Linked DNA regions of Homo sapiens. Changing the gene in region 7 together with the main gene of any one other region gives a genetic interaction. Each region holds a gene or a part of one and is shown on either strand. Other genes may lie near its edges.

Region 1 (3,898 bases), on a different chromosome or scaffold from region 7:
TGTGCCTAAATGCCAGGCAGGTAATGTAAATGAGTTAATTGAGTCCCATGGGAATGTATTAGGATTAGTGGGGACTGTTGTGTACTGGACAACCCATGCCTTTATTTTTTTTTTGTCTTTAATTTTAATTTCTTTTTATTGAGACAGGGTCTTGCTCTGTCACCCCGGCTGGAGTGCAGAGGAACGATCACAGCTCACTGCAGCCTTGACCTCTGGGCTCAAGTGATCTTCCTACCTCAGCCTCCCAAGTAGCGGGGAACACAGATGTGCGCCATCATGCCCAGCTAATTTTTTAATATTTTGTAGAGACAAGGTCTCACTGTATTGCTCAGGCTGGTTTCGAACTCCTAGACTCAAGCAGTCCTCCCACTTTTGCCTCCCAAAGTGCTGGGATTTTAGGAATGAACCACCATGCTCAACCCATTCCTTTATTTAGAAGAGCCAACTGCTCCTTTTTCAGCAGATTGTTACTGTTTTAGAGTGCAGGCACAGAATGACCACTCTTTCTATTTTTCAGGAGAAACTGGAAATTTAGATCATTGTGTTTTCTAATTGTTGGAAACTAGTTAAAAGTATTTTTAAGCCTTTTTCAGGCCAAAGAAAATATGTCTGTGGACTGGATTCTGCCCAATGGTTACTGGATGATGACCCTCAATAAACAAAATGGGCAGGCCTTATGAGACTTAATCACTGCAGTTCTCTATACATAATCACATAGACTTTTTTTCTTTGTCCTACTCTGCCAGCTGTCACCTTTGTACCTTGGGTGCCCTGAGTGGCTAAAAGATGGAGTGAGATAGAGAAGGTTTGTTTTATTTTTCATCTCCAAGCTGGCAGAAGGGACAGCTTTGGACATATTAGTAGCTTACCTTGTAAACGGTTTTTGAGATACTCTCAGAATCTCCACAGGGGGAGGAGATGGCATGCTAGAGCTGAGGTACCCTGGTCACCCGATTATCAGGTCTGGGAGGATTTTCCAGTGATGCATTGTCAGGGCACCAGCTTTTTTCCCAGTTTAACCTTCTTTTACTTCCACCCTTTAAGTAAATTTCTTGAGCTCAGTAAGTTGTTTCCTAGTTTAGTAACTTTGGTTATTCTCAATAAAGCACAGAACTATGATGTGTTCCTAGGCCAGCTCTGGAAATGTTAAAAGCTCTGCATCTTTAGTGTTTCTCTGGCTTTTTTTTTTTTTTTCTCTGATGGAGTCTTGCTCTGTTGCCCAGGCTGGAGTGCAGTGGTGTGATCTTGGCTCACTGCAACCTCCGCCTCCTGGGTTCAAGCAATTCTCCTGCCTTAGCCTCCCAAGTAGCTGGGACTACAGGTGCACGCCACCACACCCAGCTAATTTTTGTATTTTTAATAGAGATGTGGTTTCACCATATTGGCCAGGCTGGTCTTGAACTCTTGACTTCGTGATCCGCCCACCTCGGCCTCCCAAAGTGCTGGGATTATAGGTGTGAGCCAATGCGCCCAGCCTTCTCTGGCTTTTAAAGGTATTGAGTGAACATAAACCTTAGAAGGGCCTATTGCTGGTCCTTTAGCTCCCTACTACCATCTACCTTTTCAGAAAGTCCATCAGTTTTTCTTGGTTTGCCCAGCTCTGTATTAGACACAAAGGCATCATGAAAAAGAAAAACAAAATTGCGCTTTTGCCTTTGGAGAATTTATTTGCTAGTTGGATAAGAATAATTTTTTTTTGAGACAGAGTCTCTCTCTGCCACCCAAGCTGGAATGCAGTGGTGTGAGATCTCGGCTCACTGCAACCTTTGCCTCTCAGGCTGAAGTGATCCTCCCATCTCAGCCTCCTGAGTAGCTGGGACTATAGGTGCGTGCCACCACGCCTGCCTGATTTTTGTGTTTTTTGTAGACACAGGATTTTACTATGTTGCCCAGAGTCCAGTGGTGTCATCATAGCCCATTGCAGCCTTGATTTTTTTTGGCTCAACTGATCCTCCTACCTTAGGCTCCCTAGTGGCTGGAACTACAGGCATGTATCACTATGTCCCACTAATTTTTTTTTTTTTTTTTTTAATTTATGTTGCCTAGGCTGGTCTCTGACTCCTGAGCTCAACCATTCCTCCTGCTTTGGCCTCCTAAAGTGCTGGGATTAAAGATGAGAGCTACTGCACCTGGCCAAGGAAATGTTTAAAAGTGATTAAGAGGCCGGGCGTGGTAGCTCATGCCTGTAATGCCAGCACTTTGGGAAGTCAAGGGAGGCAGATCACCTGAGGTCAGGAGTTAAAGGCCAGCCTGGCCAACATGGTGAAACGCTGTCTCTACTAAAAATATAAAAATTAGCTAGGCGTGGTTGTGGGCGCCTGTAATCCCAGCTACTCGGGAGGCTGAGGCAGGAGAATCACTTGAACCCTGGAGGTGGAGGTTGCAGTGAGCCGAGATTGCGCCACTGCACTCCAGCCTAGACGACAAGAGCGAAACTCTGTCTCAAAACAAACAACCAAACAAACACAAAACCAAACCCCATAAAAGTGATTAAGAAAAAAAAAAAAACCACTTAAACACTAGTGTACTAAAAACAGCTATTTAGAGCCAAAGAAAATAAGGCATATATGAAGAATTGACAGTTACATTAAAAATTATATATTTCACAAAAATGTGAATGTGCAAATAACACTTAAGGAGATGTCAGGAAGATAGACGTGAAAAAAGAAGCATTATGATATGGCTGGTAGGTAAATGTGGGTTCTTTTTACCTGTATGGAAGGTTTGTAACTTCTGGTAGAGAAGCAAATATATATTATCAAAAAAAGGTTTGCCAGTGTGGCTCAGAGTTATTGTCTTCTATGAAGTCATTTTTCTCATGAGGTGGATGTGTGCTGTACCACTCTTGAAGAGTCAGTCTTGATGTTATTTCATTTGTTCATCTAGTATTTATTGATCATTTTTCTTACTATGTGTCAGGCTTTGGAGATAAAAGGGTAAATAAATCATGGTCTTTCCCCCTGAGATAGAGCCTGATAGTCCCATGGTGGTGATACACTAAATAAATAATTATAAATTAGTATAAGATGTGTTTATTTTTATTTTCATTTATTTATTTGAGGCAGAGTCTCACTCTGTCACCCAGGCTGGAGTACAGTGGCACGATCATACCGCAAGGCAACCTGGAACTCCTGGGCTCAAGTGATCCTCCTGCCTTAGCCTCCCAAGTAGCTGGGACAACAGGTGTGCGCCACCACACCTGGCCAATTTTTCTTTATGTTTTGTAGAGACAGGGTCTCGCCATGTTGCCTAAGCTGGTCTTGAACTTCTAGGCTCAACTGATGCTCCCTCCTTGGCCTCCCAAAGTGCTGGGATCACAGACATCAGCCACTGTCCCCAGCCAAGATATGTTTAGAGATAACTACAAAGTGCTGTGGGTGGCCGGGCATGGTAGTTCATGCCTATAATCCCAGCACTTTGAGAGGCCGAGGCAGGCAGATCACTTGAGGTCAGGAGTTTGAGACCAGGAGTTTGAGACCAGCCTGGCCAACATGGTGAAACCCCAACTCTACTAAAAATACTCTGCTAAAAAAGTGGAAAAAAGGGCTGGGCGCAGTGGCTCACACCTGTAATCCCAGCACTTTGGGAGGCCGAGGTGGGCAGATCACCTGAGGCCGGGAGTTTGAGACCAGCCTGACCAACACGGAGAAACCTCATCTCTACTAAAAATACAAAATTGGCCCGGCATGGTGGCGCATGAATGTAATCCCAGCTGCTGGGAGGTTGAGGCAGGAGAATCGCTTAAACCTGGGAGGCAGAGGTTACGGTGAGCCGAGATTGTGCCATTGCACTCCAGCCTGGGCAACAAGGGGGAAACGCTGTCTCAAAAAAAAAAAAAAAGTGGAAAAATAAATAAATAAATAAATAAGTGGTTTTAAGATTGTTCTTAGAACCACTG
Region 2 (4,618 bases), on a different chromosome or scaffold from region 7:
TGCCCAGGCTGGTTTTGAACTCCTGGGCTCAAGCAATCCACCCACCTCAGCCTCCCAAAGTGCTGGGATTACAGGCATGAGCCACCCAACCCAGCCAAAGTTTGCATTTTGAATGACAAACCCCAATGGCTTAGATATCTTTAGTTAAATATGCTAAAAGGGTTCTAAAAGCAAATTCATTTTAATTCACTTTTAATCTTGACCCTTCTAGTAAAAATGAAGTTATGATGGAACTTTTTTTTTTTTTTTTGAGATGGAGTCTCGCTCTGTCACCCACACTGGGGTGCAGTGCCGTGATCTCGGCTCACTGCAAGCTCCGCCTCCCGGGTTGACGCCATTCTCCTACCTCAGCCTCCCGAGTAGCTGGGACTACAGGCACCCGCCACCACGCCCGGCTAATTTTTTTGTATTTTTAGTAGAGACGGGTTTCACCGTGTTAGCCAGGTTGGTCTTGATCTCTTGACCTCGTGATCTGCCCTCCTCGGCCTCCCAAAGTGCTGGGATTACAGGCGTGAGCCACCGCGCCTGGCCATGATGGAACTCTGAATTAGCATAACTGTGTACCTCTGTGGAGGCTGGAATTCACTGCTCTAAGGCAAAGAATGGCAAACTTTTTCTGGAAAGAGATACTAAATATTTTAGGCTTTGTGAGTCATACAGTCTCTGTCACAACTCTGCATTGTAGTGCAAAAGTAGCCATAGACAATATGTCAATGAATGAGTACGTCTATGTTCCAATAAAAATTAATTTACAAAACAGGTAGCAGATACAATTTGGACAGCAGTTTTACCAACCCCTGGTTTAAGGCATTAGTGGTTCATTTCATCACCAAATAATATTTGACTGGACAACTAGAGTTCATACAATAAATTATTAGTTGGCAGAAGCAGTTATACAAGCATGAGACTCAAAAGCTTTCTGAAAAATCTAGACTCCAAAGTTCAAGGATCTTTCTTAGAATTCATTATGGGCTGAATTCTGCGTAGTGGCCACAGGCTGGTCAACGCCACTGGTCCACTCTGGACTTACCTAACAGGCTGTGCCGGGGGGCCAGGTATTGATGTGCTGAAGTCTGAAGCAGAGGAGCCAGACTATGAAAGAGGTAAAACGCTCCTGTTTGCTGGGCTTTTTTACATGCATCATCATCTTCCTTCAGTTCAAATAAATACCTGTATTTGGGAAATAATCAAACCATTACAAAACCACCCTTAGTTACCTGTATAGCATTCATCTTTGAGAATGCTGTCGCTGCATCCCTCTCTTACCATGGTTATTTCCCTTTATTTATTTACAACCTAATTTGCTCCAAAAAGGGTTTGAGGTGGCTATAGATAATCATTCATTCCCTCCTTTGTCTTACTGTGTACCTCACCCATACTTCTGTGGTTGCACTATTGGTTTATTTGTTCATTTGTCTGTCTCCTCTGAGAGACTATGATCTCCTTAAGGGGAAGGTATGCTTTACTCAGCTCTGTATCTCTGTAGTTAGCATATTGAATGGCTCGATTCAATAAATATTTATTGAATTGAACTTCAAGGGTAATAAATATTTACTGAATTGAACTTCAAGTTACTCTGCCAATATTACACTGTGAGGCAAGAATTTACATGCAGTGGAGTGAAAGGAAAACAAGTACAGTGATAAAACATCAACCACAAAATACCTAGAGATGGGAACAGACTTTTTCACAGCAGACAAAGAGTAAACACTGTATCTTCAGTGACCCTCATTCAATCTAGGGAAGATAAAGAACAAATTTTACCTTCAATGTACCCTTACTTCAGACATCTAGATCCCAAAGTAGATACCATTAACTCCTTATCTCTAGCAAAGGGAGCACCTGGCCGGGCGTGGTAGCTCACGCCTGTAATCCCAGCACTTTGGGAGGCTGAGGCAGGTGGATCACGAGGTCAGGAGTTCGAGACCAGCCTGGCCAATATGGTGAAACCCTGTCTCTACTAAAAATACAAAAATTAGCTGGGCATGGTGGCACGCACCTGTAGTCCCAGCTACTCAGGAGGCTGAGGCCGAAGAATCGCTTGAACCTGGGAGGCGAAGGTTGCAGTAAGCAGAGATCACGCCACTGCACTCCAGCCTGGATGACAGAGCGAGACTCCATCTCAAAAAAAAAGAAAACAAAGGGAGCATTGATGAAACCTATACTTAACCTATTTAATAAGGATAGTATTTTCATTTTCCTTCTTTTTTTGTTTTGAGACAGAGTCTCACTCTGTCACCCAGGCTGGAGTGCAGTGGCACGATCTCAGCTGACTGCAGCTTCTGCCTCCCAGGTTCAGGCAATTCTCGTGCCTCAGCCTCCCGAGTACCTGGGATTACAGGCATGCCCCACCATGCCCAGCTAATTTCTGTATTTTAGTAGAGACGGGGTTTCATCATGTTGGCCAGGCTGGTTTCGAACTCCTGACCTCAAGTGATCTGCCCTCGGCCTCCCAAAGTGCTGGGATTACAGGTGTGTGCCACCACACCCAGCCATAGTATTTTCAGTAGCCAAAATGAAAATGTGGAAAAAGGGAACATCCTCCTATTCTTGGTTTCTCAAAAACAGGCAATAGTAATGGGGTAAGTACCAGGCTTTTCCAGTACCTTCATTAAGGGTGGGCTGAGTCTCTCCCTTCAAATCCTTGTGATCAGCAGGGACAGAATGCAGACTCCCCTGGGGCCTTGGGATTAGCCATTTTTGCCTGTCAAAAGCCCTAAAACAGACGCTCAGGTAAAAACTGGCTTCTTTTGTCAAGTGGGAAAAATAGTTTGCAGATATTTCCTGTGGGATCTGAGAACTCATGTAATACCAGTAGGCAGAGTTTGCTCAACATGAAAATAAAAAGCAAAAAGACAAATGCACCCCAGTGCTATCTTTCAGAACCTACTCTTGACTGTGATAAAAGGGGTTACGATGAGCTCTTTATAAATAGAAGACAAAAGAAACCTGATCTTTTAAGAATTGTGATATTTTTAAACTTATGAGTCACTGTAGCCTCCTGGGGCAAAGACTCAATGCATGTCAAAGGAGAGACGTGTCACTCAGAAGTTACCAAATATAAACAATAGAACAAACACTGCTGCCTTCGTAAAAGAACAGAAAGAGTGGTACAACCTGTACTTGCCCTAATGACCCTAAAAAGCAAAACACCTACAAAAACACCCAGGTTAAGGTCTTAGACCCAGGGCCTCACTGGAACTGGAATTGAGATCCAAAAGTTCCTTACACTCCTCTGGATTGGGAACTCTTATTTTTAAAAATGTATTTTCCCTTTTCAGTTATAATAGCATAGAAATTGCTATGATTATCAAAGTTGAAAATATTTAGATTATTTTAAAACAAACTTTTTCCTTATTTTAACAGTAAAAAATAGTCAATCTTTAATAATCAGAATATACAATTGTCAATTTTTTGAAAAGAAAATCATCAAAATCCCACCACTCAGGGATAATCACTGTTTACACTTTGGAATTCTCTAAGCGATTACTATTATACATCAATACATATATAAGTATATTTAGAATCCATCAAACCTACTAATTTGTAGCCTTTTTTCTTAAACATATGTAAACATTTTCACATCATATTCTTTATTGATAGACTTTTATTCTTTTTTTTTTTTTTTTTGAGACTGAGTTTCACTCTTGTTTTCCAGGCTGGAGTGCAGTGGCACGATCTTGGCTCACTGTAACCTCTGCCTCCCGGGTCCAAGTGATTCTCTTGCCTCAGCCTCCCAAGTAGCTGGGATTACAGGTGCCCGCCACCACACCTGGCTAATTTTTGTATTTTTAATAGAGATGGGGTTTTGCCATGTTGGCCAGGCTGGTCTCGAACTCCTGACCTCAGGTGATCCACCCGTCTCAGCCTCCCAAAGTGCTGGGATTACAGGTGTGAGCTACCGTGCCTGACCTCATTATTTTTATTCATTCTTAAATAGATTTATTTAATCACTTTAACATACTTAAATTTTAGACTCTATTTAATAATTATGTTAATATTCTTGGCCAGGCGTGGTGGCGTACTCCTGTAATCCCAGCACTTTGGGAGGTCGAGGTGGGTGGATCACAAGGTCAAGAGATCCAGACCATCCTGGCCAACATGGTGAAACCCCATATCAACTAAAAATACAAAAATTAGCTGGGCGTGGTGGCGTGTGCCTTAGTCCCAGCTACTCAGGAGGCTGAGGCAGGAGAATCACTTGAACCCATGAGGTGGAGGTTGCAGTGAGCTGAGATCACACCACTGCAGTCCAGCCTGGCAACAGAGCAAGACTCCATCTCAAAAAAAAAAAAAAAAAAAAAAAAAAAATTCTTGTAGTCTGTTAAAGGAGTACACGCAATCTAAATGTCCAACAATATCTGAAACAAGTATCACAATTTTGTTGTTTGTTCACTCTTGTTCATGTAGGATTATATGCTTATGTGCTTCTAATTTTTTTTCTTTGAGACAGGGTCTCACTCTATCATGCAGGCTAGAGTGCAATGACACGATCTCGGCTTATTGCAACTTCCACCTCCCAGGTTCAAGCGACTCTCCCACCTCAGCCTCCTGAGTAGCTGTGACTACAGGTGCACGCCACCATTCCTGGCTAATTTTTGTATTTTTAGTAGAGACG
Region 3 (4,618 bases), on a different chromosome or scaffold from region 7:
ATCATCTATAATCTCCCCATCAGACATTAACATTATTAACATCTTGATATATTTTCTTCTTTAATAATTAACTTTTATTTATCTAGTCACCATAAGACTTTATAAAATCTCTCCAAGAGAGAAACTATCTTTCTAGAGAACTGAATTATACCTTAACTGGGGAGTTAATTTACTTCTGGATAACTTACTGCTGTTCAGCTGGGGAAATATATTGTTGACAGATTTTTTCCTTTCTACTTCACTTGCATTAGAGACCCAACTTCCTGACTGCTGTAGCATCTCACTCTAGGAATAAAATCCAAAAGGAAGATTGTAGTTTGTTTTTTGTTTGTTTGTTTTTTGAGACAGAGTCTCACTCTGTCCCCCAGGCTGGAGTGCAGTGGTGCCACCTCGGCTCACTGCAACCTCTGCCTCGCGAGTTCAAGCGATTCTCCTGTCTCAGCCTCCTGAGTAGCTGGGATTACAGGTGCTCACCACCAAGCCCGGGCAATTTTTTTTGTATTTTTAGTAGAGACGGGGTTTCACCGTATTGGCCAGGCCGGTCTCGAACTCCTGACCTCAGGTGATCCGCCTACCTCAGCCTCCCAAAGTGCTGGGATTACAGGCATGAGCCACTGTGCCTGGCCTGTTTTTGTTTTTTTTTTTTTTTTTTAATCCCGATGTGAACAGATTTTCTCTTCCTCTAGATTACAGAAACTTCCTGTTCCTGATCAAAATGAATAAATATTTAAAAGCATAAACTGGCCGGGTGCAGTGGCTCACGCCTGTAATCCCAACACTTTGGGAGGTTGAGGCGGGTAGGTCACTTGAGGTCAGGAGTTCGAGACCAGCCTGGCCAACATGGTGAAACCTTGTCTCTACTAAAATTATAAAAACTAGCCTAGTGTGGTGGTGTGCGCCTGTAATTCCAGCTACTCAGGAGGCTGAGGCAGGGGAATCGCTTGAACCCGGGAGGTGGAGGTTGCAGTGAGCCGAGATGGCGCCATTGCACTCCAGCCTGGTGACAGAGAGAGACTCTGTCTCAAAAATAAAGTAAATGAAATAAATCTTACGTTTAAAAGCCCTTTTTCATGGATTTTCCTCAGAGACTTTGCAGAAACCAAGGGGTCAGTTATTTATCAGTTGGAACATTTTGGACTTTATGATCACAAATGCTTTTTAATCTGTGTAACTTCATCTACAGAAAACCATGGTCCATTAAGACTAGAGCGATCCCTCTATCTCTTCATGCCAGGCTTCTACCAGGGAGATAACCTGTACACATTACTCACGAGCATAGTGCGTAATCCACATAGGGTAATGTCTGCAGATTTGAGTATGTGTTCCCTAATTCTTTATCTAGCATGTAGAGTATAAATAACACAATACTGGATGCTTTTATGGATGAACAAGGAATAATACCTAGCACCTTTCTTCTAGAAGTTTATAGTATGAAGAGAGAAGATAAGATGCATCTGAGAAACTAGATTAAACTTGACATTGTTTGATCAAGAGCCACGTGAGCAATACCAACATGGTTGGAGACAGAGGAGAAATCCATCGTGGTGAATCTAGAGCAGGGTTTCTCAACTTTGGCACTAACATTTTGGGCCAAACAATTCTTTGTTTTGGGGGGCTGTGTGTTGTAGGGTGTTTAGCATGGCCTCTACCCATCGGATAGCAGTAGCAACAAGCTCCTCCCCACCTCTGCCCCAGGTACACACGGTTGGTATAACCAAAAGTATCTCCAGGTGTTGCCAAATCTGATCTAGAGCAAGAAAAAACATGGAACATGAAAACAGTGTGTTTAAAATAAAGCCAGAGAGGGCTGGGTGCGGTAGCTTATGCCTGTGATCGCAGCATTTTGGGAGGCTAAGGCAGCTGGGTGGCTTGAACGCAGGAATTCGAGACTAGCCTGGGCAACATGGCAAAACCTCGTCTCTACCAAAAATACAAAAATTAGCCAGGTATGATGGTACGCACCTGTGGTCCCAGTTACTCAGGAGGGAGGTGAGAGGATTGCTTGAGCCCGGGATGTTGAGGCTGTAGTGCGCTGTATTCACGCCACTGCACTTTAGCCTAGGTGACAGAGTTGCCTTGTCTCAAAAAGCAAATAAAGAAATTAAAATAAATAAAAAATAAAATAAGCAAGCCAGAGAGGAGTAGTCTACCTTATTATGAATTCTTTCAGGACAACCCCCAAGTCAGTCAAACCTTCCTATCCCTGCTCTTTTTTTGTCTGCTTGTGCCTTTTCAATGTACTTAACATGCCAGGTGTGGTAGCTCATGCCTGTAATCCTAGCACTTTGGGAGGCTGAGGTGGGCAGATTGCTTGAGCTCAGGAGTTCGAGACCATCCTGGACAACATGGCAAAACCCCATCTCTACTAAAAATACAAAAACTAGCTGGGCGTGGTGGTGGGTGCCTGTAGTCCCAGCTACTCGGGAGGCTGAGGTGGAAGTATCACCTGAGCCCGGGAGGTTGAGGCTGCAGTGAGCCGTGTTCAGGCCACTGCACTCCAGCCTGGGTGACAGAGGGAGGCCCTGTTTCAAAAAAAACAGAAAAACCAAGTACTTAACAGTTTGTTTTGAACTCCAGTGTATACTTGATTGAGGACAAAGACCATGTGGCAAATCTTTAAACCTGCAGTGTTCAACTTGGCACTTTGTAAATAATAGTTTCTTTTATTTACTTTTTTGTTTTTTAGAGGGTGTCTAAAAATTCTATGCTAGGATTTAGACTCATCTAAACTAAGGACATAGCTAGTACATAGCACTGTGCATAGTGCTGGATAAAAGATATTCTACTTCTGGCCGGGCACAGTGGCTCATGCCTGTAATCCAGCACTTTGGGAGGCCGAGGCAGGCAGATCACGAGGTCAGGATATCGAGACCATCCTGGCTAACACGGTGAAACCCCATCTCTACTAAAAATACAAAAAATTAGCCGGACGTGGTGGCGGGCGCCTGTAGTCCCAGCTACTCGGGAGGCTGAGGCAGGAGAATGGCGTGAACCCGGGAGGCGGAGCTTGCAGTGAGCTGAGATCGCGTCACTGTACTCCAGCCTGGGCAACGGCGAGGCACGGTCTCCAAAATAATAAATAAAAAAAATAAAAAAAGAAAGATATTCTACTTCTTCCCTTTGTGGTCCCTCAGATCATTATCTTAACCTGTGTAGAATAGTGAAGAAGGGACAAGCCCAGCCTTTGGAATCATCTAGACCTGGTTTCAAATCCTGGCCCTGTTACCTTAATAGCTTTGTGATTTGGGTGAGTCACTTAACCTTTCAGAGCCTCAGTTTTCCCCTCTAGAAACTTACTTTTATTGGTATTTGCTGTATCATGTTTATGTTTATACAGTTAAAAAAGCCCCTGGATTTCTCATTTTAACAGCATCCATTTGTAGAGCATCACTAGGAATTAGATTCTGTACTAGACAGAGCCTGATGCATATATGTATACATGTATATATGAATGTATATAAATATATATGTGTGTGTATATATATACACACATATACAAATATACTGTATGTTATGTGATGCCCACAAAAACTCTATGAAGTAGACACTATGAGCCCCATTTTGTAGAGGAAATTCCAGTTTAGACTGACTACAAACTTTCCCAAGATCACAGTGATTGATTGGCAGAGCCAGGATCCCACTCCAAAGCCTGTACTTTTCTCCTTGTTCTCTGCTGTCCCTGTACTAGGTGGATTCATCACCATTCATTGCTCTAATTGGACTTTGTTTTCTTTACAGGGCCATGCTATGATAGTGGAAGCTTATCCAAAATAATAGATCCAGAAGAAGTGACCTGAAGTTTCTGTGCAACACTCACACTAGGCAATGCCATTTCAATGCATTACTAAATGACATTTGTAGTTCCTAGCTCCTCTTAGGAAAACAGTTCTTGTGGCCTTCTATTAAATAGTTTGCACTTAAGCCTTGCCAGTGTTCTGAGCTTTTCAATAATCAGTTTACTGCTCTTTCAGGGATTTCTAAGCCACCAGAATCTCACATGAGATGTGTGGGTGGTTGTTTTTGGTCTCTGTTGTCACTAAAGACTAAATGAGGGTTTGCAGTTGGGAAAGAGGTCAACTGAGATTTGGAAATCATCTTTGTAATATTTGCAAATTATACTTGTTCTTATCTGTGTCCTAAAGATGTGTTCTCTATAAAATACAAACCAACGTGCCTAATTAATTATGGAAAAATAATTCAGAATCTAAACACCACTGAAAACTTATAAAAAATGTTTAGATACATAAATATGGTGGTCAGCGTTAATAAAGTGGAGAAATATTGGAGAACTGTTTACCTCATTTTTTATTCATCAGGGGAGGGTGGTTCTCTTGGCTTAGGACCAGATTTTTGCCTTTAATTACTCATTTATAACTTCTAACTATTGTGGTCAATGCTGAGGCTGCTGGGAAGATAAAGACAATCCTGTTTATTTATTTATTATTATTATTTTTTTTTTGAGATGGAGTCTCACTCTGTTGCCCAGGCTGGAGTGCAGTGGCACAATCTCGGCTCACTGCAACCTCTGCCTCCCCGGTTCAAGCGATTCTTCTACTTCAGCCTGCCGAGTAGCTGGGATTACAGGCACCCACCACCACACTTGGTTAATTTTTGTAGT
Region 4 (5,259 bases), on a different chromosome or scaffold from region 7:
CGAGATCCTGCCACTGCACTCCAGCCTGGGGAACAGAGCGAGACTCAGTCTCAAAAAACAAACAAACAAAAATAACAACAACAACAAAAGTGAATTCTATGTGTGTCTATGGTCCAAATGAAAAGGTCACAAATTACATGATAGAAAACCTGATTTGACACTTTGTTTTTGTTACCACTTCCGAATATTTTCCTCTCAGCACTTCCGTTTCATATATAGAACAGGATGGATGCAAATATGCAGTACTTTTGCCACATATTGGCCAGACTCACCTCTTGCACATCCCAGGCACAAAGCTCTTGCTTTGGAGATACACTACAAATGATTGATTTCTCCTGTTCATCCACTGTAAGTCTATTTCCTGAGAGATAAGCCAACTCCGTCTCAAATGCTAGAAGGAAACATAGAAGACTTGGCCACCAGATAGTTAAGGGATGATCCAAACCAAAAGAAGATAATTTAAAATATTTCTGTACCCTCTTAGGAAGGTTTGGGTAACAATATGGAGAAGATAGAAATTGGGCTCCAGAGTCATCCAAACACAGGTTCCCACGGCAGACTGGCCATTTGGGAGATGTTGGCCAACTTGCTTTTCCTTTTTATCCTCAGTTTCCATAGATATAAAAGGCATATTAAAATCTCTCCATCAGAGAACTTTTCTGAGTTTTAAAAGAGTTATCAAGTCCAGGCACAGTGGTTCACGCCTGTAATCCCAGCACTTTGGGAAGCTGAGGTAGGTGGATCACTTGAGGCCAGGAGTTCTAGACCGGCCTGGCCAACATGCTAAACCTGTCTCTACTAAAAATACAAAAATTAGCATGTTGGCAGGTGCCTGTAATCCCAACTACTTGGGAGGCTGAGGCATGAGAATTGCTTGAACCCAGGAGGCGGAGGTTGCAGTAAGCCAAGATCATGCTGCTGCACTCCAGCCTCGGAGACAAAATGAGACTCTGTTTTTAAAAAAAAAAAAAAAAAAAAAAGTGTTATCAGGATTAGGCCAGGTACAGTGGCTCACGCCTGTGAGGCCGAGGTGGGAGGATCGCTTGAGTTCAGGAGTTCAAGACCAGCCTGGGTAACAAAGTGAGACCTAATCTCTACAAAAAAATTTAAAAAATATGGTCGGGTATGGTGGCTTATGCCCGGAATCCCAGCAATTTGGGAGGCCAAGGCAGGTGGATCACTTGAGGTCAGGAGTTCAAGACCAGCCTGGCTAATATGGTGAAACCCCATCTGTACTAAAAACACAAAAATTAGTTGGGCATGGTGGTAAATGCCTGTAATCCCAGCTACTCAGGGGGCTAAGGCAGGAGAATCACTCGAACCCAGGAGACAGAGGCTGCAGTGAGCCGAGATCGTGCCATTGCACTCCAGCCTAGATGACAGAGCAAGACTCAACCTCAAAAAAAAAAAAAAAATCAACTGGTTGTGGTGGTGTACCCCTGTAGTCCCAGTTACACAGGAGGCTGAGGCAGGAAGATCTCTTGAGCCCAGGAGGTTGAGGCTGCAGCTGTAGAGCCTATGTATGCATTTATTTAGAGACAGGGTCTGGCCCTGTCACCCAGGCTAATTTTTTAAATTTTTTCATAGAGATGGAGGGGGGGTCTCACTTTGTTGGCCAGGCTGGTCTTGAACTCGTGGGCTCAAGTGATCTGCCCACCTCGGCCTTTCAAAGTTCTGGGATTACAGGCATGAGCCACTGTGCCCAGCCAAGCCTCTGTTTTTTAGAGTTTCCCATTAATTTTTTTTTTCTGATTTTTATTCTGGGAGGGATGAGAAGCCTTAGGAAAAAGGGAGTAACAGGACCTGATTTTATGTTGTGAAAAAAAATCACTCTAGTTTCTTCATTCAGCACAGATGGTGGGGACAAGAGAGGAAGCAGGGAGATATCACATGGCTATCACGGCAACCCAGTCTGGTTCAATTTTAATTCCTTTTCCCTTTACTGAATGAGAATACACAACTGCACACAGCAAAAATCAAATAGAGTGGACCTCTGAAAACAAGCTGCTCATGTTCCTCTAGGGCACCTATACCCATACCGATGTTCTTAGTTACTTTGTAGATAAAGTTATGCGGCTGTGCCAATGCCAACCGAAGCTCCTTCCTTCTTTGATGCAGGAAAAATTGCTTCCATGTGTGTGTGCCCAGGTGTTGATTGGTGAAGTTGCTGCAGTCCCATCTCTGCAGAGATAGTGACCTGGAAACAGAGTCACAGTCCCATCAGGCTGTTCTCAGTCAGTTCACCTCCTCAGAGCCCCGGTTATATCACAACCCCCTACTCACACTAACTTTCCTGTGTATATCTCACAACACAGCCACACAGGCCTTGGGACACAGCATGGGTGCGCAGTCAGATGATCTCCTCTCCCCTTCCCTCCTTGCCCTTTCCCTTCCCTTACCTCCACAGGTAATCACTGTCTGCAATCCTATTCCAATGCTATGGGAGAGAAAGGAAGAGACAAGCAGGCAATCAGTTACATCAGAGAGCAAGGGTAATCCTCTGCTATTATTTGTTCTGGGAGCTGGGCCCGCACAGGTTAATCAGATGGGATTCCAGCTCTCAAAGCACTCTCAGTGTGGGGAGATAAGGAAATGGTAACAACAGAGACCTATCACTGCTAATACAGGCACTGGGTATTCCCATGAATTCACAGGAAGAAGTGTTGATTTCCTAGGGCTTGAAATGGGAGCCTCAAGGACTGTTTAGTCAGCACAACTCCTGGATATCAGCTTGTCCTTTTCGTTTAACAGAATATGAGGCCCTCAGTATGAAGAATGCTAACCCCCAAAGCCTCAGTGTAACCCTCTGCTATTCTGCAAAGTGGTGCTCAAACTGGTCGAGAGAAGCAGCGGGCTTGGGGGGCAGTGGGAGGTGGAAGGCCTTTACCTTGTTCACCTGGGAAACCTGCAGCAAGCCGAACAGGTCCAGGAAAGAGAAGATTCGCTTCAAAGCTAAGTCAGGCAATCGGATCTCCATTTCATGCGGCCTGAACCCACATCCACTTTCCTTTCTCCTCTCCGGGCTGCTCTGAATTTATAGGCTTTGCCAAAGTCTGCAGCACTTGTAAAGATTTTCACCCATGCCCATCTGTGTGCGGTAGAAACAAGCTGCAGGTGTGCAGACTCCCGGGCTGACCTCCACCCCGGCCTCTCCCCTGGGGCCTGATCCACACAGCTGGCAGGCATCCCTACCTAAACCCACTTGTTAGTGCTGTTCATTGTTTAGAGGAGCTCAGCAACACCTGTGCGCTGTGAGCTGGAGGTGCAGAACCTGGGGCAGCCCCAGTTGCAGATGAAGTTGTCAGAACCCTTTAGGAAATGTCACCGAGTGCACTCACTTTGATCAGATCTGAGTGTCTCTATGACTCTATTTAAGTTCCAAACTCCTGGAATTGGAGTCTGCTTGCCCTGTGTCTGTGCCTACCTTGGGATCTTGAATCTGGTGAGTGGGGCTCATCTCTCAGCGCCAGCATGGCCTCTGGGTTTCTACCTTCTCGCATTTAACTTTGCAGTGGAGGAGAAAGAACGTGCCAAGCTGGCTTCTCCACAGAGGTCCGCCCAAAGGGAGCAGGCCTTGTCTGGGATGGCTCTCCCAGCTGGTGGCTTTCCCTGGGATGTGACGCTTTCCCACAGTTACAGATCTCCCAAGAACCTGACAACTCATTCTGGGATTTTCTAAAGACCGTGTCATAGCCTGGGTGTTTGTGTCCTCTCAAAATTCCTACGTTGAAATTCTAACCCTTGGTGTGATTGGAGGTGGGGGGCCTTTGGGAGGTAAGTGGGTCACAGGCAGAGTCCTTATGATGGGACCAGTGACCTTATAAAAGAGACCCCAGAACGCTCTCTAGCCCTGTTCATATCATGCGAGGACATGAGAAGGTGTCAGCTGCAACCTGGAAGAAGGCCCACACCAGAACCTGACCGTGCTGACAGGTGACTCTTGGACTTCTCTCCTCCAAAATTGTGAGAAATAAATTTGTTTGTAAGCCACCCAGTCTATGGTACTTTGCTGCAGCATAAGACAGGGGTCCCTCTGTGAGGCTCAGTGGCCAACCCTTCTTAAAACTGCTGCCTCCAGGCAGACACACGGGAGTGGTTGTCGGGAGTCCCATTTATGATACAGTAGTAAGAGAGAGGAAAAATACAAATTGACATGGTGAGGAAATAAAAAGGAAAAGCAAAGACCAAGAAGCACCTAGAGGGGCGTGGGGAAAGGCGAGTCAAGGGGTGTGTGGAGAGGAGTGAGAAAAATACAAGGGTAAAAGATTTGTATTCCATAAATAGGAAATAATGCAGAGAGAGCCAGAGCCGTGGAAGGACACAGGAAGACAGAAAGCTTGGAACGGACTCTATTGTAGAGGAACAGAATTAATGCAAAGATATAGAAGGCTGAGAAATAAAACACTTTAAAATATGACAAGGGAAGAGAAGAAACAGTAAAATAAAGGATATTTTAAAAGTATTAAAGCACAAATATTATAAAATACACAGATAGGAAATATAACTGTAAGTGGACTGAGACAGAGTAGGAATAAAATGGAAAAGAGGACAGATGAGAAAGAGGCAAACATAAGGAAACTGAAGCAAATTGCCGAATGAGTGAATGAATGAATTTGAAATAGAGGAACAGAGGCCAGGCACAGTGGCTCATGCCCGTAATCCCAGCACTTGGGGAGGCCGAGGCGGGTGGATCACCAGGTCAGGAGTTTGAGACCAGCTTGGCCAACATAGTGAAACCCTGTCTCTACTAAAAATACAACAAATTAGCTGGGCGTGGTGGCGGGTGCCTGTAATCCCAGCTACTTGGGAGGCTGAGGCAGGAGAATTGCTTGAAGCTGGGAGGTGGAGGTTGCAGTGAGCTGAGATTGCGCTACTGCACTCCAGCCTGGGCGACAGTGCGAGACTCCATCTCAACAACAACAACAAAAAAAATAGAGGAACAGGAAGGTGTGTTGGGGGGTGGTGGTGGCGGGGTGCTACCAGAAAAGCGGCAGAGAAAGACACATTGCAACAATAGATGAAGACAAATCTAAATGTCACAAGAGTTAAGAGATGTAAAATTTGAGAGATGTGAAATGGTAACTGCGTAATAGTCTAAGCAAAAGATAAGATGCAGGTGAGAGAATGGTCCGGACATTGTCTAGGAGAAAGTAGATTAAAGCAGGCAGCTGGGGAAACCTGAGAAGAGGGATCCATAAGGAGTTGGGCAGCCTGAGAGTAGGACAGAGAGGGAGGGACGACACAGCATGGGAAGTAAAG
Region 5 (4,575 bases), on a different chromosome or scaffold from region 7:
ATCATTCTGATTCTCATTGTTTATTTTCATTCACTGAATTTCTTTTTCCCATTTTAGATCTCTATCTGGAATGAGACCATAGAAATTAACAATATGAGAGACTATTAGCCTCAATTTTTATTCCTGAATTTTTCTTTGCATGCACATGAATTAGATGAGAAACCATGTTATTTCAGCAATAGTACTGAAAATCCATTTGAGGGGAAGTATCTTTGCACCTATTTGCTATGTGACTTGGAAAAGTTACTTGGAAACAGATATGTTTTTACTTCCTTGCAAGGTGCTCTCAAAGCAAACAAGAGCAAGTCATGTTATCACAAAACACTTTCCATCACAAAGGGAAAATTAAAATATATTTTGTAAAAATATTTTGAAAGCAAAAGACTAAAAATTCTAGAATTGAGCCATGTAAACATGCTCTTGTTAAAATGTGCAAAGGTTATATTTGAATATCTATTGAGTATAAAAGTTAAAGAGATCTATTTAAAGTAAATGAAGAAATTGAAGTTTTCATTAGTCATGGAAGTGGCAACATCAGCCATTTACTTGTATTTTAAGTGTTGTTCATCTAAAATAGCTATATTAGTCTTTATTTTGCTAGCAGATATTTTGAATGTGTAGGTTATATTCCAATTGATACTAATTGCTGATATTTCAACTACTTGGTAATATTTTCTTTAGAAATGGAAGGTAAATTACTATGGTAAAACAGCTTTAAACATTTAGTAATTAAGTCAGCTAATCCTAATATTTTTCTGGCTCCCCATAAAATTGAATGTCTACTATGTAACACTTTGTTATCCAATTTCCACAGAATCTTTTGAGCATATGAAGAAATCTGGGGATTATTATGTTACAGTTGTAGAAGATGTGACTCTAGGACAGATTGTTGCTACGGCAACTCTGATTATAGAACATAAATTCATCCATTCCTGTGCTAAGGTATGTGCTGCTTATAAATAAAATGGACAGCTGTTTTCTAGCACAACTGACTTTGAGTTTCCATTAGACAAATCTGTTTTCTCATTGATTTTCAGTGCCTCTTAGAAATCCCTTTTCCCAGTGTGTTCTGAGAGCTTTAAGAAAGAAAATGTATAACAGTATGAATTGTATGCTAAAATTGTTCTGTAAGGTGGATCAATTTGGTATAGGCATAGAGAAACCAAACAACTTAGCAGTAATGCACAAAATCCCTAATGTTACTCTTTTAAAAAAAACAACTCTGAATATACCACGTTAGCATAAATTTGTTTCCACATGGTAAAGGGTTCAGATTATTCCGTTCTAATTATGATACATCTAATGCATGTAGTGCCCTTTCATCCCTCAATAACTCACATAAAATAGTAAATAAAAAAAGAGGGAGAGAAAACCTTAATTCAATGAGAATAAGGTAGGAACACTTGGGATGTGTTCTGTCACACTTAGGAATTTCGGTGGGGTTTCTGTACTAGACATTAATTTTATTTGGATATCTAAAATAACTTGCTAGTAAGCAAGGAGTAGAATGATGGATATATTCATGAAAAGGTTACATTTTGGTGATGTTGATCCTGATATTTGTTTAAAGACAATGGGGTGGGAAGGTTGGGGACATAGCCAAAACAAGTTTAGGTCACAACTTGACTCATACTATTTCCTCTAATAAGTAAAAACATCTTTAAATTATTAACTTTTAATAGTAGTACTCTCATACTAGTAGGAAACAAACTTTTGGGCTAATCAGATTTGCCCCAGCTTCTCTGTCATATTTAAAAACAAAGGAAATGTTCAGCTATTACAGAATATTCTATGATCTCTCCTTCTCATAAGTTGTAGAAATACATACTGAAACAGCCTTCACTGTATAATATTTTTTGCATTTGATTTCTGTTAAGTTCAAGTTTACAAAATATACTACTTATTATCAGTAAATTCTTACCAACTCGTTTTAGCTAAAAACAAAAGTAAATGCTTACTCCTTTAAACATTGTAAATATTTTCAGAGAGGAAGAGTAGAAGATGTTGTTGTTAGTGATGAATGCAGAGGAAAGCAGCTTGGCAAATTGTAAGTAGGCAGAAACAAGGTAACCCTGGATAAATTTTGTTCCAATTTAGTTTCTTAACAAGATACTTGTTTGAAGTTCTTTTTGGCTTCATTAATTCTGAACTTATTCTCACTCTAATAGTTTAGACTGAATTTCATGAAGAAATAAAGTATTATTATACATATTTTGCCTTAAAGTTTGAAAATTGGAAGCATACTTCTTTACAGACAGTAACATCTTTAAATTACTAACTTTTTATAGTAATGCTCTCGTCCTAGTAGGAGATAAACTTTTGGGCTAATCGGATTTGCCTCAGCTTCTCTGTCATATTTAAAAACAAAGGAAATGTTCAACTATTACAGAATATTCTGTGATCTCTCATTCTCATAAGTTGTAGAAATACATACTGAAACAGCCTTCACTGTATATATCTAAATCATTTAAAATAAATATAAATAAGTGGTATTGATTTATTGCCATTTTATAAGAACTTGTAGTTCTTATTTATTATAATTTTTAGTTTTTGAGACAGGGTCTGTTTTTGACAGCTCTGTCACCCAGGCTGAGGTGCAGTGGCTCAATCTCAGCTCACTGCAGCCTCAGCCTCCTGGGCTCAAGCAATCCTCTTCAGCCCCCCAATTAGCTGGGACTACAGGTACACGCCACACCTGGCTAATTTTTAAAAATTTGTAGAGATGGGGCCTCATCATGTTGCTCAGGCTGGTCTCAAACAGTGCTCCTGCCTTGGCCTCCCAAAGTGCTGGGATTACAGGTGGGAGCCACTGTGCCTGGCCCAAGAACTTGCTTTTTAACACTAACTCTTCTGAGTTTTAAGGAATTAACAAATATTAAATACCTGCTTATGTACCAGATGCTATTCTAGGTATTTGGAATACCTCAGTGAACAAAACAGACCGATTTCTTGTGTTCTAGTCTATATAATTTATGTTTTTTTTTTTTTTTTTTTTTTTTTTAAGAGATGGGATCTCTTTCTGTTGCCCAGGCTGGAGTATACAGTGGTACGATCACAGCTCACTGCAGCCTTGAATTTCTGGGGCTCAAGTGAGCCTCTCGCCTCAGCCTCCCAAGTAGCTGGGACTACAGGTGCATGCCGCTGCACCCAGCTAATTTTTTATAGAGATAGGGTTTTGCTATGTTGCTTTGGCTAGTCTCGAACTTCTGGACTCAAGTGATCCTTGGCCTCCTAAAGTGCTGGAATTACAGGCATGAGCCACTGCAACCAGCCAGGCATACTTCAGTCAAGGTCTTTTGTTTTTTTTAAAAATAGGATTTTTTAGTCTGTTCAAACATGGGCAGACCCTTCAAGTTTGTATATCTTTTATAGTTTTTATCCTCTAAGGCACTTAGATCCACACTTTAATACTGGGTTTGGATTCATTAAGAAATTTTGTATAGATGTAGACTTGCTTTGTTTCCACTTCATATTAATTAGACCAATCTTGAGTTAATCTGATACACACCTTCACAAATATTAAAGTAGCTTTAAAAATGATTAAAGAGCAAAGCTATTATGTACTCATTTTATGTGGGTATGTCGACTGCTCCGAAGTTGTTTAAATAGATTTAAATAAAGAATTTTTACAAAATAATTTTGGTCATTTTTTTTTTTAAAGGTTGAGTTTTTAGTGTTAACATGCATCTTAAAATTCGTTTTTCTTTTTCAAGACAGAGACTCACTCTGTTGCCCAGGCTGGAGTGCAGTGGCACAATCACTACTCACCGCAGCCTTGACCTCTCTGGGCTCAGGTGATCTTCCCCCCTCAGCCTCTGGAGTAGCTGCGACTTTAGGCATGTGCCATCATGCCCTACTAATTTTTATATTTTGTAGAGATGGGGTTTTGCCGTGTTTCCCAGGCTGGTGTCAAACCCCTGGGCTCTAGCGATCGCCTGCCTCGGCTTCCCAGAGTGCTAGGATTACAGGTATGAGTCACTGCACCTAGCCTTAAATTTCATTTTTAAAGAGGGCTTAGGGTGAGTTTTGTATTTGTCCTGTTTATTAGTGAGCTGGAGATTACTAGATAAAAGTATATTTGACTCTAAGTAAAAATGCTTTGGTGATTTAAATGCTTATCAACTTACATGAATGCAGTGGGAAAAGCCATAATCTAAACCTGTTTCTAAGGAAACTTAAGTTTTATAACATTAATTCATATTGTTACTAGAATCAATTTTTATTAATAAATGCTATCTCCTCACCCTACCCCCTTTTTAAATTTCAGGTTATTATCAACCCTTACTTTGCTAAGCAAGAAACTGAACTGTTACAAGATTACCCTTGAATGTCTACCACAAAATGTTGGTTTCTATAAAAAGTTTGGATATACTGTATCTGAAGAAAACTACATGTGTCGGAGGTTTCTAAAGTAAAAATCTTGTAAGAAAATTGTCAAAGGGGCTAATGCTACAAGGCTACACTCTTCCTAGAGTTGAAATATTTTGTTGCTGCAGCCGAGTGACCTCCATAAATACTGGACTGAAAAAACATTGTAATACTACAAGTATAATGACATTTAGAAGATTACTTTGG
Region 6 (4,618 bases), on a different chromosome or scaffold from region 7:
CTGAAAAAAATCCAGAATCTGGAACTTCTGATCCCAAGCATTTTGGGTAAGAAATACTCAACCTGGATTAAGTCGGGGTTGGGGAAGGAGCACACAATGATATAAAATTATTTATTTTAGATACTGACAGGAAATATAATATTTAGAATGTTTATCTTTGGACAATAGTAGATTTAATTTTTTTCTTTCAATTTTGGTGAATTTTTTAGTTTTTATCTGTCTGTGCATATTATTTTCTGTTCATAAGCAAAAAAAGTTATCACCATTGCTTCATATCAAATTTAAAAAAGGAGATAATGGCCAGGCTAAATATGCTTTCTCTTCTTCTTTTCTGTTTATTTAGTTAGTGACCCCCTCATAGTTTTCATTAAGCAAAATAAAATCCCTATTTTTACTATATAAGAATTGAGAAATTGCTCTATTTATGAATATACAAAGCACTTTTTTGGTCTAATGTATATCTAACCTAAATTTTGGAATTATATGTAGAGTACTCTAAATGTACAACAGTAGTTGTTTAAGTACCTATATATGTAAGTTGTCGGGTGTTAACAATTAGTAGAGAGGCAAGAAAAATAAAATTTATAATAAGCAGTGGATGGCACTAATTAGCCATGTACTCTTTATTTGGAAAAAGGGAAAGATACAGTCTATCCTCAGCTAGATAGCTACAAATATATTTTATGAGTATATAAATGAGGAAATGAAGAAAGCACTTGGTAAACTATAAAGTATTAAACAACTGTAAAATGATATGTTTGAATGATCTTGTAATTGATTATCCTTAACTTTTTTATTTTATTCTTTAATAGATTGCTATGAAGAACTGTAACACACCTTTATTAAGAGCTTACTATGGTTCCTTGGAAGACAAGAGGTCTTTGTCACTCAACCGTTAATAAAAAATAAGATTATTCTCTTCTTCCTGATCATAACTGATTTTAAAGACTCTAATTGTATTCTATGGAACAATTACTTGAGTTTTGGTTAACAGAATCTTTAACCTATTCATCAAAATTCTAATTGTACATTTCACATTATAAGTAGAATAAATAGGGTAACAACACATTGATTATTTGTGTTAAAGGACAATTAGAATAGCATGAAAACTTGAAATCCAAGCACAATTTTAATATTTCCTTTTAAAGCCATTCTCCATGGAAAGACTTGCAAATAATAAAAATATATTTCTTTATTTTGTTAAATCATGAAGGGTCTAATGTAACAAAAAATAGTAGATATAAATATTGAATACAATCTAAATGCTGTTTAATTTTAACAGTATTAAATTATTAGCAGTAGTTGTGGACTGAAGAACTACTGGTTCAATCCAGACCTTGGTTCTGAACTGAAAAGATTTGTGATACTTAAGAACTATTATTCTATTAATTGAAGATTTATCCCGTGTGAGGCCACACATTGAAGTTAATAATAAAACTGGCTTAATTACAAATAAAATATAGAATGGAATGAAGGAAAAGTTGAGGAAAATATGTGTTACCAGATTTCTGGTTTGCATAATCACTGAACTTTACCACTGGTAATTGTGAGGTTCCTGTTACGCTGTCTACATATGTGTTTAGTGTCTCTTGCCTCTACCGAAGGCAGGGATCATATGTTATTCTTCTCTGAATCTCTTCACCTAGCACAGTGCTTGATACATGGTGTACATTGATGTTTATTGAGTGAATGAGCATGAAGCCACAATTTTTATGACAGTTCTTTAGAGATGTATTTTGTACCCACAGGCACATCAGTATATGTAATTTGTGAGCTCTATTAGCAGATGTAGAATTGTTTTTGGGGTCCTGATGCTGTTTTAGACTAGTCCTGACTGATGAAACAGTTTAAATATGAAATAGTCACAGCTCTAACTTAAGTAAATTTAAATATTTGTTGCTTAATTAGTTATTTCAAAATAACTTTCAACAAAAATTTGCTATCATCAATTGTGATTCAAATTATAAATTAAAATAACTCTTTGACTTATTGCCTATAATGTTTTTCTTTTGGCCTTAATATTAGGTTTGGAATCATACTTGAAAAGATTAAAACAGTAATTAATGATGATGCAAGATACATGAAAGGATGCCTAAACATGAGGACTCAGAAGTGCTATGCAGTGAGGTCTAACATAAATGAATTTCTTGACATAGCAAGAAGAACATACACAGAGATTGTAGATGACATAGCAGGTAATTTCTTTATTTGATAATGTTTTTTGTAGGGATAAAACAGCCTTTTCAGGACATGCTGTCCTTTTTTGCTGCTGATGACTAGCCATACATATTTTAAATTTATTTTTCGTTACCAAAACATAAGGTTAGCATGTAGTGCCATTTAAGGAAACAGCATATGTGGCAGCCTTCATACTAAACTCCTTTTGAAAACCTTCCATTGCCAAGTGCAATAGCTCATGCCTATAATCCCAGCACTTTGGGAGGCCAAGGAGGGCTGATAGCTTGAGTCCAGGAGTTTGAGGCTAGCCTTGGCAACATAGCTAGTCTTTTGTAGAGACAAGACGTTGTCTCTACAAAAACTGAGAAAATTTGCCAGGCATGGTGATGTATGCCTGTAGTCCCAGCTACTCCGGAGGCTGAGGTAGGAGGATCACTTGGATCACTTGAGCCCAGGAGGTCGAGACTGCAGTAAGTTATGATTGTGCCACTGTGCTCAGCCTGGGCGACAGAGTGAGATCTGTCTTGAAAAAAAAAAAAAATTATTAGAGTTTGAAAGAGCAACAAGACCTCCTATTTATGTATAAAATAAGAATTTAAAAACCATGTGACTCTTTAAAACAGAGTGATTTTTCTCATTAAAATTTATTCATTTTGTTTTGTTTTTGTTTTTCTTGTTTCTGGTCACCAGGAATGATATCACAACTTGGAGAAAAATATAGTCTACCTTTAAGGACAAGTTTTAGCTCTGCTCGAGGATTTTTCATCCAGATGACTACAGATTGTATAGCCCTACCTAGTGATCAACTTCCTTCAGAATTTATTAAGGTTCATTTTAGAGTGGTTAGGAAATTAGTGTTTCTGATTTTATAGAATTACATCTACATATTTTTGGGACTTCTTGAGTTTTGCAAGCCAAATTTCTGAATGTTCTGTATCTTCTCCTATTCCTACCCACCCACCTAACTAATGTACTAATCTAAGAGTGATTTAGATGCTTTTGCAGAAATACCAAACTCAGTGTTTTCCACAGTTCTGGGAGCTTGGTGTAAGAAAAAAAGGAAAATGAAGAAAGAACATCCAAAAGCTGTTTATGATAAAAGAAATTAGGAAAATACCACACCATTTGCCTGTTAAAGGTTTAAAAAGTCCTGAAGTAAATAAATCTACTTAACTTTTAAAAATCTAATATTTCCAAACCTTTGTACCACAGGAATAATTTTTCCTATATAGCTCCTTTACAATATACCAGTTTGGGAAAGTCTAACCCACTCTAATCTTTGTTCTATCTGCTTAGGGGGTACTTTTTGATAAGAACAAACCATTTAGCTTTCAGGCTTTTAGAGCTTGAGTACGATTAGAGATTGAGTTGAGGTTCAGATATAGGACAAGGGCTGCGACAGGGGTCAGAGATGGAGTGAGGATCACTGATGTCCATCATGCGTGTTACTTGGTAATAAGATGTAGTGTTTTTAACATTTTAAGACCTATCAGAGTAGTCATCCCAGATGAACTAGGTCAAAATATCCTGCTTTTTAAAAATGAATGTATGGGTTAAAAAATTTGGCTTTATCCTTTGAAGTGATCTACCTCTTACATTTCACAAATATTATTTAGAACTTTCTTTGTGATACCATATCTCAAAGAGTAAAATGATTAACCTAAATACCCATATTTCTGTTGTTTAAAATCTTACATTTCATAGTAGTGTGCATTTATCTTGACATTTGTTTTTTAATCTCCAAGCAGATTTCTAAAGTGAAAAATTCTTACAGCTTTACATCAGCAGATTTAATTAAAATGAATGAAAGATGCCAAGAATCTTTGAGAGAAATCTATCACATGACTTATATGTAAGAGCATTTGAAGTATTTGAATATTGAATTAAATTGGTTTAATTTGAGAAACTGTTACAATTGTATTAGTTTAATTTTTATCTAATTACAGACAATTGTAGAATTATGCATGTTAGCAAAGGAAGTCTGTCTTTGTGATTAGAATCACTGAGCCTCACAGAAGCTTCGGGGAAGATCTAATTGCAAACAAATACTTTTATAATTGATATTTCTGTAATGTGCATTCTACCATGATGTAGAACTTGGCACATCAGGGGCTTACCTGGGCTTCGTTCAGTTTATTATTTTCCTATGGTCTGTAAGTCCTCAGCTTCTTATACCTTGATATTAATAATTCAATAGCAATATCACAATAGTGTCAGTTCTTTTGCTGGTCATGAAATAGTAGCAATACAGCCAGAAAGAAGAAGTAGAAGATTTAGAACACTTATTAGGCTGAAGTAATAAAGAGAAAGGTTGGGCTTTCAAGACAATTTCAAGGCATGTACCACCAACATTTTAATATATAGTAAGTTTTGGGTACATATTTATCTTTGCAAGAGAAAAACTTTTTGCACTATATCACAGTATAACTCTGCCTTATAA
Region 7 (3,427 bases):
GAGAGCATGTCTGGGCTGCCCTCTCCCCAGGACCCCAACTGGTACAAAGCCAAAAACAAGGTGGGCCGTGAGGGCATCATCCCAGCCAACTACGTCCAGAAGCGGGAGGGCGTGAAGGCGGGTACCAAACTCAGCCTCATGCCGTGAGTACCACGAGGAGGGGTTGGGGAGGGAAGGGGCCTTGGTCCTCCTGAAGGAGCATCAGGAGCAAGCAGGGAGGCCAGAGTGAGGGGCTTGGGTGTTGGGGAGGGCCTCAGGAGGAGGTGCAGGGTGCGGGTGCGGGACCTCACAGAGCAGGGCTGGGGGCAGAGGCAGGAGGGTGGCAAAGAAGGGACAGGGAGCAGAAGAAGAGGGCCTCAAATGCCTGACTGAGCGAGTGCGAGCCACGGGTGCCAAGCAGAGGGAACCCCTTCAGAAAGGGGAGCCAGGGTCAGTACCTTTGGGCCACCATGACCTCCAGCCCTGCTGCTCCCCAGTTGGTTCCACGGCAAGATCACACGGGAGCAGGCTGAGCGGCTTCTGTACCCGCCGGAGACAGGCCTGTTCCTGGTGCGGGAGAGCACCAACTACCCCGGAGACTACACGCTGTGCGTGAGCTGCGACGGCAAGGTGGAGCACTACCGCATCATGTACCATGCCAGCAAGCTCAGCATCGACGAGGAGGTGTACTTTGAGAACCTCATGCAGCTGGTGGAGGTGAGCTGGGGGGTACAGAGCCTTGCTCCCACCCTCACACACCCTAAACCCATCTGGGGCCCTGGCTTCTAGCTCCAGCCCCACTGCTTCTGCGTGGTGACCAGCCATGTGGGGCAACTTCTGTGAGCCCTTGTTTCCTCACACCTTGGTGGAGCAGCTGCTGCGTGCCAGGACTCACCTCTGACCCCACAGTGCCACCATGAGGAGGGGAGCCTTATCCTCATTTTATAGACCAGGAGTTGAAGGTTCAGAGCAGTTAGGGGACCCACCTGAGGTCCCACAGATATAATTTGGTGCCAGGACTAGAATCTGAGTCTGTCTGATCCCAGAGCTAACTTTCCTCCAGCCACTCACAGACCTGCATGCTCAGAAGCGTGTGCAGAAACATGAGCCATGCGCCTTGATCGCCAGGGCCCCTGAGGCTCTCGCACCTGCACGGACATGCCCACAGGTCCCTGCAGCTTCCCAGGCCAGCTCTGCCAGCCCTGGCCAGGCCACACCTGGCATCCGGTAGCCACAGGAAGCCTCCCGTGTCCCTCTGTATTCACTCTTATCTCCCTCCCCTACTGGCCTGGCTTGGCCTGTGGCAGGTGAGGGTGGGGTCCTGGGCACTCCTGGCTAGAGGCTGGTTTCAGGACTGAGCCATGGGTTGCCCTCTGCATCAGATACCCATGGGGCCCAGAGTGGTAGCAGCAGCTGAGTGTCCAGCAACCGCATGTAGGGTGGCATGGGAAATGGGCCATACGTCATAATCTGGGACTTCCCTAACCCCTGCCCTACCAGAAATGGGGAGCCCTCCCCACTCAGTGACTCCAGGCTAGGCGGGGCTGGCCTCTGCCGCCCTCTGGTGGTCAGGCCTGGACGGTGCATATGGGGCACCTTGGGCTGTCTCTGAGCACCCTGCCCCCCACACCCTGCAGCACTACACCTCAGACGCAGATGGACTCTGTACGCGCCTCATTAAACCAAAGGTCATGGAGGGCACAGTGGCGGCCCAGGATGAGTTCTACCGCAGTGAGTGCACCCCACCCCAGACCTCTTGCCCACCCACCTCCTCCCACGCAGGCTTCCTGGCACTGCCCCATCCAGGAACCTCCAGAGAACCCCAGTGCCTGATAGTCCAGTCAGCCTCTGTCATCCCAGCCATGTCCCTAGTGGCCTCCAGGCCCTCACTGGCCCCTCCCCACAGGCGGCTGGGCCCTGAACATGAAGGAGCTGAAGCTGCTGCAGACCATCGGGAAGGGGGAGTTCGGAGGTGAGCTGGGCCGGGCCCCCTGGGGGGGTTCTGAGGGACTCCGAACTTGGGAACAAGACCACCTCTCTGCCCCCAGACGTGATGCTGGGCGATTACCGAGGGAACAAAGTCGCCGTCAAGTGCATTAAGAACGACGCCACTGCCCAGGCCTTCCTGGCTGAAGCCTCAGTCATGACGTGAGTGGGGGCGGGGTAGGGGGGAGGTTGGCCTAGGTTAGGAGTGAGGCACCAGCTTCCCCTTTCTGACCACTCTCGTCCTGCCCCAGGCAACTGCGGCATAGCAACCTGGTGCAGCTCCTGGGCGTGATCGTGGAGGAGAAGGGCGGGCTCTACATCGTCACTGAGTACATGGCCAAGGTGGGCACCTGCCGAGACCCGGCACTCAGGCCTTCCAACTGCCCCGAAACCCCCACTGTGCTCTAGGGCCCCTGCTCCCTCAGTCCCCCGACCCCAAGTGAGCTTTTAGGTCACCAGGGCTGGGCTTTTGTCCTGGTTTACCATTCATTGACTGTAACATTGGACAAATCATGTCACCTCCAAGCCTCAGCATCACATCTGGGAAATGGAGATAATAACAACTTAGAGATTTGTGAGAGTCAAGGGATAAGGCATGAATAACACAGAGCAGTGTCCGGCATGGATGTTCTGGCCCCTCCCCACTCCTTCCCTGTCTCACACCTCCCTGGAGTGTCAACACCCACCCGGCCCCAGCGTGCTGTGTGAGAGGGCTGCAGGGCACGTCTGACCTCGGCCTGGTCTGTCCTTCCTGCCCCCAGGGGAGCCTTGTGGACTACCTGCGGTCTAGGGGTCGGTCAGTGCTGGGCGGAGACTGTCTCCTCAAGTTCTCGCTGTGAGTGAAGCAGCCTCTTGGATGGGTAGGGTTTGAGGGGTACCCTGCCCTGCTATGGGAGCCCCAGTCTGAGGGGACATGTGGCTGGCCTACCCCCAGAGATGTCTGCGAGGCCATGGAATACCTGGAGGGCAACAATTTCGTGCATCGAGACCTGGCTGCCCGCAATGTGCTGGTGTCTGAGGACAACGTGGCCAAGGTCAGCGACTTTGGTCTCACCAAGGAGGCGTCCAGCACCCAGGACACGGGCAAGCTGCCAGTCAAGTGGACAGCCCCTGAGGCCCTGAGAGAGAAGGTGGGGCTGGCCTCCCCTGGGGCCTACAGAGGTGGGCAGGAGTCCTGGGTCACTCCCCACCCTGGAGTCCCAGGATCTGACGCTGCTTCTTCCATCCACATGGCAGAAATTCTCCACTAAGTCTGACGTGTGGAGTTTCGGAATCCTTCTCTGGGAAATCTACTCCTTTGGGCGAGTGCCTTATCCAAGAATTGTGAGTATGGGTACTGGGATCAGGGTGGCTCTTGGAGCACCGGAGGGGTTGGCAGGGGCGTGAGCCTCCTTGGGCCCTGCCTCCCCAATCAAGGCCTAGAAGCCTCAGGCCTGCCCTGGGGAGCTCACAGGCCACTCTC

What was found.
Region 1: changes in CSK (region 7) and GBF1 together harm fitness more than expected from each alone (negative genetic interaction), as found in Homo sapiens cells (one study listed by BioGRID).
Region 2: changes in CSK (region 7) and NUDT13 are lethal when combined (synthetic lethality), as found in Homo sapiens cells (one large-scale study listed by BioGRID).
Region 3: changes in CSK (region 7) and HADHB are lethal when combined (synthetic lethality), as found in Homo sapiens cells (one large-scale study listed by BioGRID).
Region 4: changes in CSK (region 7) and FBXW12 are lethal when combined (synthetic lethality), as found in Homo sapiens cells (one large-scale study listed by BioGRID).
Region 5: changes in CSK (region 7) and GNPNAT1 are lethal when combined (synthetic lethality), as found in Homo sapiens cells (one large-scale study listed by BioGRID).
Region 6: changes in CSK (region 7) and MSH4 are lethal when combined (synthetic lethality), as found in Homo sapiens cells (one large-scale study listed by BioGRID).

What each region holds. Positions count from the first base shown.
Region 1 is NC_000010.11:102,248,514-102,252,411, forward strand, and holds part of GBF1 (Golgi-specific brefeldin A-resistance guanine nucleotide exchange factor 1), read left to right. Parts: intron 1-3,898. UniProt on the Homo sapiens protein: Guanine-nucleotide exchange factor (GEF) for members of the Arf family of small GTPases involved in trafficking in the early secretory pathway; its GEF activity initiates the coating of nascent vesicles via the localized generation of activated ARFs through replacement of GDP with GTP.
Region 2 is NC_000010.11:73,116,570-73,121,187, reverse strand, and holds part of NUDT13 (NAD(P)H pyrophosphatase NUDT13, mitochondrial), read right to left. Parts: intron 2,017-4,618; exon of another isoform or gene 2,000-2,016; intron 1,738-1,999; exon of another isoform or gene 1,666-1,737; intron 1,171-1,665; coding exon 1,031-1,170; intron 1-1,030. UniProt on the Homo sapiens protein: NAD(P)H pyrophosphatase that hydrolyzes NADH into NMNH and AMP, and NADPH into NMNH and 2',5'-ADP. Has a marked preference for the reduced pyridine nucleotides.
Region 3 is NC_000002.12:26,286,180-26,290,797, forward strand, and holds the end of HADHB (trifunctional enzyme subunit beta, mitochondrial isoform 1 precursor), read left to right. Parts: intron 1-3,738; coding exon 3,739-3,774; 3' UTR 3,775-4,286; downstream 4,287-4,618. UniProt on the Homo sapiens protein: Mitochondrial trifunctional enzyme catalyzes the last three of the four reactions of the mitochondrial beta-oxidation pathway.
Region 4 is NC_000003.12:48,370,486-48,375,744, reverse strand, and holds the start of FBXW12 (F-box/WD repeat-containing protein 12), read right to left. Parts: upstream 3,527-5,259; 5' UTR 3,458-3,526; coding exon of another isoform or gene 3,425-3,457; intron 3,089-3,424; exon of another isoform or gene 3,062-3,088; 5' UTR 2,978-3,061; coding exon 2,888-2,977; intron 2,438-2,887; coding exon 2,400-2,437; intron 2,198-2,399; coding exon 2,040-2,197; intron 392-2,039; coding exon 273-391; intron 1-272. UniProt on the Homo sapiens protein: Substrate-recognition component of the SCF (SKP1-CUL1-F-box protein)-type E3 ubiquitin ligase complex. Promotes degradation of interleukin-22 receptor subunit IL22RA1 in resting and IL22-stimulated conditions by facilitating its ubiquitination.
Region 5 is NC_000014.9:52,778,151-52,782,725, reverse strand, and holds part of GNPNAT1 (glucosamine 6-phosphate N-acetyltransferase), read left to right. Parts: intron 1-814; coding exon 815-942; intron 943-1,985; coding exon 1,986-2,047; intron 2,048-4,267; coding exon 4,268-4,415; 3' UTR 4,416-4,575.
Region 6 is NC_000001.11:75,876,124-75,880,741, forward strand, and holds part of MSH4 (mutS protein homolog 4), read left to right. Parts: intron 1-812; coding exon 813-877; intron 878-2,025; coding exon 2,026-2,195; intron 2,196-2,868; coding exon 2,869-3,005; intron 3,006-3,926; coding exon 3,927-4,030; intron 4,031-4,618. UniProt on the Homo sapiens protein: Involved in meiotic recombination. Required for reciprocal recombination and proper segregation of homologous chromosomes at meiosis.
Region 7 is NC_000015.10:74,798,796-74,802,222, forward strand, and holds part of CSK (tyrosine-protein kinase CSK), read left to right. Parts: intron 1-30; coding exon 31-143; intron 144-476; coding exon 477-696; intron 697-1,616; coding exon 1,617-1,710; intron 1,711-1,885; coding exon 1,886-1,951; intron 1,952-2,027; coding exon 2,028-2,127; intron 2,128-2,216; coding exon 2,217-2,307; intron 2,308-2,726; coding exon 2,727-2,800; intron 2,801-2,899; coding exon 2,900-3,095; intron 3,096-3,201; coding exon 3,202-3,288; intron 3,289-3,427. UniProt on the Homo sapiens protein: Non-receptor tyrosine-protein kinase that plays an important role in the regulation of cell growth, differentiation, migration and immune response.